Regions from separate parts of the Homo sapiens genome. Here regions 1 and 3 are each linked to region 2. Evidence: fine-mapped expression QTL. A gene starts in region 2. Each other region holds a variant in brackets. All regions are shown on one strand. Distances are from middle to middle.

Region 1 (4,247 bases), 120 kb after region 2:
ATGTCACCATGAAAACATTCAGGAATGAAAAGGAACAAATGTTCTTTTCTGTCATGCTCCACAATAAAAATCGAAGCGAATGTTTGCCGCACATTCACATGGGCCTGTTGGATTATAATGGCACTACCCTTGTCAGAGAAAACAGAATATATGACTCCAGCTGGTACCTCCTAGGCTTTGGTGTGTTCCAGTGCTTTTTAGAGGGTAGGGGGAAGGGCTTTTTGAGAGCCAAGCATGTTTTAAAGATGGCGTGCATAACATTGCTACCACGTGAGAATTCTGTGGTGTGAATAATCAACCCCAGTGCTTCAAAAAATTTTTAAAAAGATTTAGCCAAGTCTGTGCATGAAAGGAAGTGGTTTTCACTAGGCATCATGCTTTTAAGATGACCATACTTGTTATGTGAATAACTTTATTTTGCAGCTATTTGCTTTGCCACATCACAAACAACACTTCATGCACTATTACTTAGGGAAAAAAAATACTCTGTGGCTATTATTTTTTCCAAAACAAACCTCAAACATTTTGTGATAATTTCAAACAGAGAAAATTGCAATAATAGTACAAAGAACTACTGTATACTCTTCACCTGGATTCGCAGTTTTTAACCTTTTGCCTCATTTACTTTCATCTCTTTAACTATCCATCCATCTGTGAATCCATCCATCTATCCCATCGTGCTGTGTGATGAACGTGCTGCATCGTGAACATGGGGTAAATGCACCTATGTCTATATTTATCTCTACCATCTACATAAAATGATTATGTGATTCTATTTTTCTGAATCATTTGAGGGTAAGCTGTAGGCACAGTTCTTCTTTACCCCTAAATAGTTCAGTGTGTATTTCCTAAAAACATGAATATTTGCTCACATAACAATGTTATAATTATCAAAATGTGAAATATTAATACAATCCCTTATCAAATCTACAGATCTTTATTCTAATTTTGCCAGAGGCTTCAAAAATATCTTTTCCTTGGTTGGGGGATATGTGGCAGGGTTTAGCTGTGATGCCTAGGCTGGAGTGCAGTGTTCTACTCATAGCTCATTGCAGCCTTGAACTCCTGGGATCAAGCTATCCTCCCTCCTTAGCCTCCCCCATGAGTATCTGGGACTACAGGCACGAGCTACTACTCCAATAATATTCTTTATAGCATTTTTCTCCCTGGTTCAGAGCCCAATCTGGGATCTTGTGTTAGGTTTAGTTTTTATGACTCTTTAATCTCCTTTAATCTGGAATGTTTTCTTACCTTTTTTTGTCTTTCATGATATTGTTTTGAAGAATACAGGCCATTTATTTTGTAGAATGTCCCTCAGTTTGGGTTTATCCCATGTTTCCCTATAATTAGATTCAGGATGCACTTTTCTCTCCCCTCAGGAATGAAAGGTAAGTGGTATTGTGTTTTGTCACACTGTCACACAAGCAGACACATGGTGCCTGTTCATCCCACTGGTAGTATTGCTAAGTTGGGTAAAAGGGTGTCCACCAGAGTTCTCCTGTTAAGCTACTATTTTCTCCTGTATAATTAATAAGTAAACTGTGGGAAGAGTCTCATTTTTTTTATTGGCTTTGGTCTAAAATAAGCACAGCCAAATAACAAGCAGCTGGAAACAGTTCTTACATATTTTAAGAGGAGGCCAGATAAGATTTCTTCAATAGTTTAGGAAAACATCCTGACTAAACATATTTGGATTTTCCTTTTTTCCTCGCCCTGTGGTGTATAGCCCTGTGCAGAATCAAGCAGAGCCCTTTCTTTTCACCTCCTTATCCAAAACCCAGGGTTTATTATTCGTTGACAAAATCATCAAGGAACTACATAGACACACACCATTTTTGGGAGGGAAGGTATCAGGTATGTAAAGGAAATATTAAAGGGGAATAGGAATGAAATAGGAATGAGGAGAACACAGAAATGCCAAGAGTACACAAATAATAGTTGACAAAGTCTTTTTAAACAAGTTAGGTGTGCCCCACTTCTAGTTTGCCTTTTCAACCTAGACAGGTCCTAAGTCATTCATTTCTCTCCTGCCTCCTTTTGTTGTGTTCTATTTTAGTGGGAACAGTGGTATCTCCCTGCAGGAAACATGCTTACTATATTGACACAAAGTTTATGATTGGTTTCCTCAAATTGTCTTGGTCATATTCATTGTTAAGAACATTTTTAAAAGTAAATATTATTATGGAGAAGTTGGAAGATGAAAAAAATGAAGTGAAGCCAGTTTGTATATACTCACTAAAGGAGGATGTGCCTGGATATATAGTTTATACTATCTGTAATATCAAACCCAGTGTTTGAGAGAAACACCATTCTTCCTGGCACAGAGATCTGAGAGAAGTTTCTCCAGCACAAAGAAGACCCTTTGTAATGAAGTAAATAATGTCCTTGACAACATTCTTACAGGAAAGCAACAAATGAGTTACAGGGCTGTTTCTTATGAAGTCTCTTGATGT[G/C]GCTGACTGCCTAATGCCAAAGCAGAGAGGAATGAAAGAAATCCGTCAGTGAGTGACAATGCCCTCTGATAGTCTGGTTTATTCCAAGGTTAACTTGTAGAGTATCTAAAGCGGTATTTCCAAATGTGCTTTTAATCTCCTTCAGCCATGTCCTCAGTTCTGTCAGATAGGGATGATAAAGCTTCCTCCTTGATTGCAGTGAAGGTTGAATGAGGTAAACTGATGGGAACCAGGCAACACAGAGCCAGTAGCATTGTAGGAAGAAATTAACAAATGGAAGTTATTATATTATTATTTTTGTTTTTCAGGAAGAAAAATAGGAATGAATGATTAATTAAAGCCCCAAATAGAACATGCTCACAATAATTTAGTTGGGAACATTTTTAAGCAGTTTTACCAGTCCATGACCCATGCCATTAAAAATGATCTTTGTAAATCATCCAGTGTGGTGCTGTCTCTTTAGTAAACCGGGAAAAGCAGAATATAAAGTATGCCCTTAGGTGACTTAGTGAGTGTGCTATTTAGGGTTGTTAGCTATAACCCAGTTAATCCTTGGCTTTGGTGCTGGAAAAACACACTATTTCCGTGGTTCTCAAAGTGTGGAAAAGGCAGCATCAGAACCATCTGGAAACTTTTTAGAAATGCACATTCTCAGCCCTGTTCTAGATCTACTGACTCAGAAACTGGGACAGGACTCAGCAATCTGTGTTTTAACAAACCCTCCAGGTGATTCTGATGCTTGCTAAAGTTTGAGAACCTCAGCTCCTCTGTCATAATTAAATAACAGGGTTAATCACTTACTAAGGCCTCTCCCAGGATATAAAAAAAATCCCAATTTCATATAGAAGGATGCATCTTTTTTCCTTCCCTGTGGTGAAGAGGGAGGCATTGTCCAGTGTACTGGGTCAAAGTGATATAATATTCTTAAGATGTAAGTTAAAATGAAAGAAGAACAGATTACATACATCCCCAATTTATCCCAATAGAAAATATTGGATTTGGCCAATACTGTATCTCTTGACTCTGCCTCTAATAGGAGCTTAGCCTAAAACTGGTTTCTATTCATAGAGTTAAAGGCTGAGGGAGAATGAATAAATGATTCTGTGAAAATAGCCTTAGTATGTATTAACCAGCTGTACCCAACTGACTTTCTCTTGTTAGCTGCACAAGGCAAAGGATGCTGAGATCTAGAGCATGTGCTTACAGGAGCAGAGGTAAGTTAGGTACAAGTTACTTGTACTTCCTGGCGTTTGAACAATAACTGGGCTCCTTTCTCTTTCAACCAGCAAAACATATTGTAACACTACTGCATTGAATGAGTGTGATGGATTAGAGGGAAATTCTTGAATGCCATCTCATTTACATTTTTATTAATTGATTCCCCTGCAACCTTTGGTACTTATGAAAAGTAACAAATTTCTAATAGCAGCCACATACCCAACACCAAATACACTGGTCCATTAAACAGGACTTAGGTGAAATGGGGTTTGAGCAGTAATGTTCGGACCCTATTCTAGGTGTATCAGGTTTATTTATTTTCTTGTTTGTAGGATGCTCACTCTTGGCCTATGTACGCAGGCTGCCAAGTACCAGAGATGATGCAGAATTCAGATTCCCAAGGAGGGGTAATGGACGGAAATGAACCCTTTCCTGCTTACACAGTAAATATTCACAAAGAAGTAAAAGCTAACCTGAGAAAAAAAAAAAAAAAAAAAAAAAACAGGAGAAAGGAGAAGGGGGGAAAGGCATTTTTTATTTTCATAGTGGGAAGAAATGTACTCTGGGAAGAAATGC
Region 2 (4,211 bases):
GGTGGTGGTGGAATTATTCATCTCAAATTTCTGTCTGTCCTTCTCCAAATCAGCGTCCAAATCAATTATTAAATTTCCAACCCCGATTTCCCAATCATCGCCACTGTCATAAGTATCAACTGTATTTGGATCCACACCTTTTCCTGCAGTAGAAATGTTCACTGACATCCTGAAGATGAGCTCTCTAGAATAAAAATCCGATGAACTTTTCTTTGGAGATGAGGGGACATTCGTTTATCTCCGCTGGGCTTTCTCTCAAAGAAAAAAAAAATCTTCTAATCTTCCTCTTCTTTTTCCTGCCCCACGAATGTGTCCAGGGATTTTACACCCTCAGTCCAGGTCCACCTTTTCCTGTGAAGGGGGGGGGAAAAGTCGAATATTTCTTGTCTGGGTGTTACCAGAATAAAAAACGATTAGTATTGGGGAATCAGTAAAGGGGACAGGGAAGGATGGAGAGTAAGGTGGCTCATGTATTGTCCTCACAGTCCAATATCAGGTTTAAAGGAAAATAACCAAACCCGAAAAATAAACCTATGACAGTAAGCATCTTACGGTAGCTAAAAAGAAAATCCCTTTATCAACAACACAAGGATAATCACCTTTTTAAAAGCATTAAATTATCTTAAGGATCTGATTCAAGTCCAGAAAGGTTTTTGTGTTCTTTTTTAAAGTTTAGGATTTCAGTCTGGCACATGTGATATCTCAACCCCAGAAACACAGCCTGAACACTCAGACAAGAAGGAAGAACACAGCTTTAAACATCCCTAAACATGTCCTAGATCTTGCAATTTAGAAGACCAGACCCTGGAAGTTCTGAGGCTAGTTTTCAGAATAGAATGTTGCTAAATTTTCCTTATTTCTAATTTAGGTTTCAGTACTTCTTTTTACAAATTGTCTGGGCAATCTGTTTTTTGTTCCTAGTAAGGAACAGAAAAAACAACCAATAACTGCCCCCAACACACACACATACCTCCCTCCTATCCTCTTTTCCCAAACAGCTTCTACAATTTCTTTTTTGAAATATGCATGTCTTTTAAGAGCATTTCTCTCTAGAAAAGACAGTGTTATATAAAAAGTTAAATACCTGCCTTTTGAGAAAAAAATACATTTAAACAATTCTACCATATTCCTAGGTCAGAGAATTGCTCACTCTCTTAAATACGGTGCTACTGACTGTACAGAAAACTGATTAAGACATACACTTTAAGTGATCTGCGCCAAGGTGGCCTCAATGACCGCAAATGAGTGTGTTTGACAAAGAGCAGTTAAAACGGTTTTTAAAGGGATCAGCCCCTTTTTAACAGTTGATTGTCAAGAAAAAAATAAATAAATATACATACACACACACATACACACACACAGACATTGCTTACCTTTTAATCCTTTATCATTTTTTAATTAGGCCAGCAAATCAAAATGCCTTTCCCACTCCACTCGGCAAACAAGCCTGTGCCTCATTTTACTTAAACACCAAATGATCAAGAAGGAAGAAACCAAATAACACATCTCAGCCAGAATAATCACTCGATAACATTATTCCACCTCCCCACCCCCCTTTTGGCAAACGAATCAGTCCTTTTCTCCTTAAAAAAAATGTGTCACTGTACAGCTGGAAAATAATGTTTCACATTCACAACAGAAGCACCAAAGGTTTTTTTTTCCTCTTAACAAGCATCGAGAATAATAGTTTTTTAAAAAACAGAGAGTTTAGAGAAAAAAGTTTTCCCAACTTCTCATTCCGCCTTCAGTTCCAGACTTCAGAGTCACCGTGATCAGTAATGATCCCATGTAGCAAACCTACAGGCGTCCGCTAGTAACGAGACAGAATGTGCTAACATCGGGATAAATTAGTGAAAGGGAAGAAAGAATAAGAAGAAAGGACTGAAAATCTGGGCTGGATTCCGCCTGTTAGTCGGGAAGTGGCATTTTTCCGCCCGTCCTGACAGATTTGATTTCTTGAACTAACTTAAGAGAAAAGGAGGGGGGGAGTAGAGGGAGGAGGAGGAGAAGAAAGGGTGGGATGAGAAACTGGGCAAGAGGAGAAAAAGAAAGGTGTGGAGGAGGAGACAGCAGATGATTCAGTGAGCTGATAAACCAGTTATAACAGCATTCGCTCGGGGCGGGGGGCGGGGGGCTTGGGGCGGTGGGGTGGGGAAAATAACGGCGTTTAAAATGGGCTCAGTCTTCGAAACCTAAAGGATGTGATGTTTTCCTGTCTTATGTTGTTTTAAGAAAAAGGAACTGAGTTCCTAGTATAGCTCCCGAGGGGAGTGGAATCCTCTGTCGCTCAGGTCAGCCAGTCATGTGGTAATTCGATAATTAGAGTCAAAATAAGGTTTTTGTTTTCTTTTTTTTTTTTTTTAAGGCGACCCTTTTCGGGAGTTTTTCCCTCTTATACTCGCAGCAAACGGTGTGTCTCCCTTTTATTTATTTTTTCTCTCCTCTCCCTTCGCCCAGCCCCTCCTGTGTTTAGTCAGATGGCCCCGGAGCTTGGCTTAGTATTTTTAATTAGCTGGCGTTTGGAAGCTAAAAGCAGTAATGAATTGTTGATGGATTGGAAGTGGAGAGTCGCTTTGCTGGAAATGTCGGGGCTGGGAGAGGGGGATGGGCGAGTTAGTAACAACCAACCATCTAAAAGGAGCGATTTTGTTACAGTGCAAGCCTTTCACATCACGTGAGGATCAAGGGCTCAATTGGTTGTCGTGAGAACAAAAATGGTGACAAGCGTATCAAGAAAATACTGATCTGGTCTTTAAAAAAAAAAAAGCTGAAAGTCTCTCCCCTCCCCCTGCACACACTCCCCCAACCTCCTCCCCCCGCCCCCCCGCAGTGGGCGAAGCTACAAGTTATGAATGTGAAACATTTCTCGGAGATCTAGGATCTCCGAAGTTCGGAAGGAGCGAAATGTAATGAGCACAAGAGCAAAGCAGATGTTTTAAAGAAACACTTTATAAACCTTTCCTCAACTTATCTCCAATTTGTCGGCTTTCCCAAGGGGCCAGGGACGGGGACGCCTGGGGGAGGGAGAAGGGTATCTCCGAGCTACTTGGATTTTAGGGACCCCCACTTCATGTATTAAACAAAGAAAAACCTTTTGCTTGCTCCCCAGCCTGGTCCTGTAATAAATACACCATTGTTACTATTTGTGGGTTTGTTTGGGTTGGGTGGGGCTTTTATTTTTTCTCTTAATGGTATTTTTGTTGCTTGCTTTTTTAAGGAGATGGCGAATGGTAATTATAACCATTACATGTAATGAGTGACTATTCCCTTGTTTAATATTAAATTATCGGGCACTGGGATCTGACAGGAGACAGAAATCGGCTTGTTCTGCCCTTGCCCCCATTTTCCTGGATCGCTTTGGGAGGGGGGTCTGCCCAGCTAGGACAGAAGAGGGAGGGAGTAAGGTGAGCTAGAGAATTGACACTGCAGACCAGGATATGCAACTGTGTCACTTTTATTCTCCTTTGGGTTAGAGCCCAAAAGCTAATTTCCTCTAAGTTACCCCGAGTGCCCAGTCAAGCTTAATTTGTGTGAAGTTACAAATGCTTCACCCTCCACTGAATAAAATTCACCCTTCTTGGGTTGTTGTTCTAAATGCAAAAGCCAAACCCTGTAACTAGTTCCTCATTTCTATGCATAAAACTCGCACATTCCCCTGCATGAAGTCCCCGCTAAGTGCTATATAGAGACACACCACGCAACCGTACTTACGGTCTGTATTGGATCGAGTTGACCTTTTCCTTCTAACTGCATTGAATGTGTTTGGTTGCAGCCGCTTTATTTTGGAAATTATAATCTCTTCAACAAATTTATTATTAAAGAAGATGGACCATCAAATGTCACAGACCGTCCTGTGTATTTTTTATAAAAGCAAAAATTAAAATTTAAAAAAAGCAAAACAAAAATCCCCCTGGTGCACACACACAACAAGCTTGTTCTGCAACACTAAATCAGGACTGAAACACAACACACACACAGGGGGAGTGGAGCAAAAGAAGCTCTCAGCCTCTATACCTGAAAGGGACTTTTCTTTGTTCCCAGTGCCCTTTCGCATCGGGCCAATCAGAGAGCAGCTTTTATGAAACTGGGCTCTCTCATTGGCTAGCTGCTTTCTCTTGGCTACTGTAGGGGGTTGAGATATACACACGTATAAAACACACACTGAGAGCGGGTGGGGGTGCTGTGGGGGGTGGTTGTGGAGACAAAGCGTT
Region 3 (4,198 bases), 110 kb before region 2:
AAAATGATGAAAAATATGTGAAATACTCTTATGTATAGGATTAAACACCACAAACGATATTTTTATAAATAACAGCTTGGATGAAATTCAAAAGAAAAACTGAAAACTAACAGAAAAATATCTTCTTACTGAAATCTATTAAGAACATAGACTAGATGTGTAAGCCAAGCAGCAAAGGCAATACTCTAAGGTGGTCTTTCAAAATCAAGGGAAACATTTCTTTTTGATTGCAAAATTCTATTCATTTCTGATGCAAAGGCCTCTAGGTAGAACTAACCAAATTATACCAAGACAAATTCCGTCAGCTTAAAGAACTTTTTAGTAAACCACGTGGTAGCACTGTCATTAGCAATTATAGTAAAATAATAAAAACTTACAGCTGGAATGGAGCACTGAAATCAACCAGTCCAAACATACAAAGCACACTCCCACCTTGGGGCTTCGGTACTTGCTCTTCCATGTCACTGCAGTGGTGTTCCCCCAGATGTCTGCATGGATCCCCCCCATCTCTTTAGTGGCCACTCTGTTTACAGTTACAAACTCCAGCACATATTCACTATGCCCCACTCCCATGCTTCATTTCTCTTCATTGCATTTATCAACCATCTAACATGCTCTATATATTATTCAGATATTTTATGATATGTTTATCCCACCCACCAAAAAATGAAAGCTCCATGAAGACAGGAATTTGTGTCTGCTTTGTTTACTGCAATATGCCAGAACCCAGTGCAGTGCTTGGGATAAAGCAGGCACTCAGTAAGTGTTTGTTCCAAGCAAAGAAGGGAGAGAAGAGGCAGTTAAAATTTGGCATAAAATATTCTAGTAAATCAATGTAATGACAGCTAACTGACTAAATGACTTTTTACATATTTTTCCTGTTATCCACATGTCATAACATTTGCATCTTTGAAGTATCATTCCATACCATAGAAACCTGTATCTACTAATTTCTAGTGATATCGTGCTCCATGTTTAGGGTAAATACCCTGTAAATGGGAATACATTCACCGAATTAAACACACTATTTGGTTGTTATACCTATGTATCCTATAAGAAAAGTTAATATCTGTTTACTGTATCTTATGCATTGGATATTAATAATATTAAGAAACCCTTCTTTGAAAATTAGAATGACTATCAGCCAGGTAGAAAATAACATGAGACAGACAAGAAGCCATTATTTAAAAAAAAAAAAACTTTTTAATTCTGATTGCCAAATTATTTAAGGCAGGTATAAAAAAGGAAAGCATTCAATATACATTTTACATAAAATAAACTAGATTACAGCATAAAACAAGTAACCAGGCAATGGCGTTAAAGTCTCTCTCTTCTAAAACTGGATAATTGTAAACATTAAAAAAAAAAAAAGACTGTAGAACTATTCAAGTAATAGAACAATCACAGATGTCTCTGGTACGCAGGCTATTGGGTTATTTGCCATTCAAGATTATCAAAAAATGACACCTCATTATTCACAGATGCTCATTATTTCCCCATTTTAATCTTTACATTATATACAACACAGTTTTTGTGGTACTGGCAACCCCATGCCTTCCAAAAGTACTTTTTCCACAATACACAAGTACAAACAGTGACTACAGGAACATTTTACACTGGTGCGTCTTTAACAGGAGCCACCAAATAGACATCTAAATTGTACCAAAGTGTCATCATCACAGTTAGCCTTTCTGAGGGGCTTATGGGAAATATGTGAAGGATATGCAAGGTTCAGGCACACTGATACATAACATTATTTATTTACAATTTTAAAGGAAAAGGAAAAGAAAGTAAGTAGCCTTTTGTGGCTAACACTTTTTAACATGACAAATACATTTTTAATTTCCTTTACTGAGTGGTTTGCGACGTGGCAGCAGACCCTGTGTGTGCGAGCCTGGTTACTGATACAAAAAGTAAAGAATATATTTATATTTATATATATATATATGTATATATACAGATATGTATACGTATATATATATAAAACAGAAGTTTAATTACAGCAACATTTGTTACTCTGTGATAAAATCTGTAATTTACAAAAATGAAATGACTGGTTTTTGCCTGCCATTAAGGCATTTCAAATTAACACCATGGAACTGATGTCTGTATAAAGCGCTTCCCCATGTGATCCAGTCACATGACAATGTACATGTCCAATCTTGTTATTCTCTGCAAAAGAAAAGCAAACCTTAGCACACGGTTCTATCAACATTTTGTTTGTTTGTTTTTTGAGTCGGAGTTTTGCTCTTGTTGCCCAGGCTAGAGTGCCA[T/C]GGCTCAATCTCGGCTCACCGCAACCTCTGCCTCCTGGGTTCAAGTGATTCTCCTGCCTCAGCCTCCCGAGTAGCTGGGATTATAGGCATGTGCCACCATGCCTGGCTAATTTTATGTTTTTAGTAGAGAGGGGGTTTCTCCATGTTGGTCAGACTGGTCTCAAGCTCCTGACCTCAGGTGATCTGCCCACCTCGGCCTCCCAAAGTGCTGGGATTACAGGCATAAGCCACCACACCCGGCCAACAGTTTTTTTTTTTTTTAGTTTTGAGACAGAGTCTCACTCCATCACCTAGGCTGGAATGCAATGGTGCAATCTCAGCTTACTGCAACCTCCACCTCCTGGGTTCCAGCAATTCTCATGCCTCAGCCTCCCTAGTAGCTGGAATTACAGACGCACACCACCACGCCCAGCTAATTTTTGTATTTTTATTAGAGATGGGGTTTCACCATGTTGGCCAGGCTAGTCTGGAACTCCCGACCTCAGGTGATCCACCTGCATGAGCCTCCCAAAGTGGTGGGACTACAGGCATGGGCCATCATGCCCAGCCTCTATCAACATTTGGCACTGTAAACCAGAAAACCATAAGACCGATAGTCTTATTTTAATTCCATTCAAATGTGGAATTCAATTCCAGAGAAAGTGAATAAACATAAAGTAATGATATACATTGTGAAAAATATTAATTTTATAATATTAATAATTTAATTCCTTTAAATCATTTTCCTTCATAAAACTTAGGGAATAATTTAAAATATCAAAGAACAAACATTACCTTTAGCATTATGAAAATAAATGTCTCCATTTGCGACTTTATCTTTAAACATAATAAAACAAAGGGAGTCATGGTGAATTATTTTAGAAATGCCGTAAGGATAACCCAAGAAAATTTCAACTGTCTAAAAAACTAATCAGTTAATTACTAATCTATGTAACCCTTACAGAATGAGGTTCATGGAATTTAAGTTGCATGTGAAGCAACTTATATTGGCATAATAAACACATTCATTACAATGATATAAAACCCAAGGAGTTAAGTTTTTGGTCTAAAAATCCTGTACTTGCTTCCTCCCAACCATTAAGATATTTCTATCTACAACTAATTAAAAATGTAGAGGATATTTACCTTCTTTGTCCAGGAAACATTCCAGATGCAGATGCCTGGGCAGCCACCTGCTGAGAGGCAACAAGGGCAGCAGAGGTCAAGCCTAATGGGGAAAAAATGTAGAGTGTCTGTGATCTTTAGAAGGATAAGAGTAGATACAGGCCCAGTGGAGAAGGGCCGCAGACCTAGTAGCAGCATGGTGTCCTCTCCTAAACACACACATGAACTGTTTCATGCAGCAAGGACACAGTACAAACCATTTGGTCTATCTGCTATCTATCCTTTCTTGAATACTCTGCAGTTTTCTTAATAGCTATTCGAAGGAGATACAGCATTCCATCTCTCCGGCTCTGCATGGTGCTAAATGGTTTGCATGCATTCCCTGAATAGGAAGCTCAGGAGAAATAACAGATACCAGGTAACAACAGGAATCAAAAGTCACAGTGAATTACAGAAGCGGCATGCTATTTGCCTAGAATACAATACTTTCATAATAATTGTTATCACTTTAACATTTTCCCCAGTGACTGAACACAATGCATCCCATAAGATACACAGAATCAGTAAATCAAACTTAGAAATGCTCTTAACTTTCACCCTGCAAGACAAAGGTAGCAGTCAGAGACTGTAATAGCTCCAAATGGCATGATGTTGCCTAACAGAGAATTCTTTTAAATTCTATAGAAGACAGTCCTGGGGAAAAATAGAGTAAACAAATGCAAACCTAGGGAAGATTACTGTCTCCTTCTAGGTCTTTTATTTGGATATATTTTCTTTTCCCAGAGGTAACTTAAGACAGTACAATAACAATAATATTATCT

Which allele goes with the higher level. Positions count from the first base shown, and alleles are read on the strand shown. Sizes are in standard deviations (SD) of each study's normalised expression.
For the expression in adrenal gland of the gene that starts at base 1,818 in region 2, allele G in region 1 goes with a higher level than allele C (small effect, 0.38 SD a copy in GTEx).
For the expression in spinal cord of the gene that starts at base 1,818 in region 2, allele C in region 3 goes with a lower level than allele T (small effect, 0.25 SD a copy in GTEx).

The links. PIP is the estimated chance that this variant, and not a neighbour inherited with it, causes the effect. A credible set is the group of variants that fine-mapping cannot tell apart.
Region 1: its variant is the best candidate, but not a certain one, in a credible set for the expression of ZNF608 in adrenal gland (GTEx, PIP 0.64).
Region 3: its variant is the best candidate, but not a certain one, in a credible set for the expression of ZNF608 in spinal cord (GTEx, PIP 0.78).

The regions. Positions count from the first base shown.
Region 1 is chr5:124,867,239-124,871,485 of GRCh38, forward strand. LOC105379157 (a long non-coding RNA gene) reads right to left here. Exons shown (of 2, transcript NR_188329.1): 2 at 1,547-2,672. Among named protein-coding and RNA genes, the nearest start is that of ZNF608, 120 kb to the left of the region's middle. The variant G/C (reference allele first, on the strand shown) is at 2,454.
Region 2 is chr5:124,744,822-124,749,032 of GRCh38, forward strand. It overlaps ZNF608 (zinc finger protein 608), which reads right to left and starts at 1,818. Exons shown (of 10, transcript NM_020747.3): 1 at 1,374-1,818; 2 at 1-351. The coding sequence starts at 168. RefSeq lists enhancers at 1-110, 1-19, 2,059-3,057, 2,751-2,930, 3,058-4,056 and a silencer at 3,936-4,175.
Region 3 is chr5:124,635,735-124,639,932 of GRCh38, forward strand. ZNF608 (zinc finger protein 608) reads right to left here. Exons shown (of 10, transcript NM_020747.3): 9 at 3,399-3,480; 10 at 1,181-2,172. The coding sequence ends at 2,166. Among named protein-coding and RNA genes, the nearest start is that of ZNF608, 110 kb to the right of the region's middle. The variant T/C (reference allele first, on the strand shown) is at 2,274.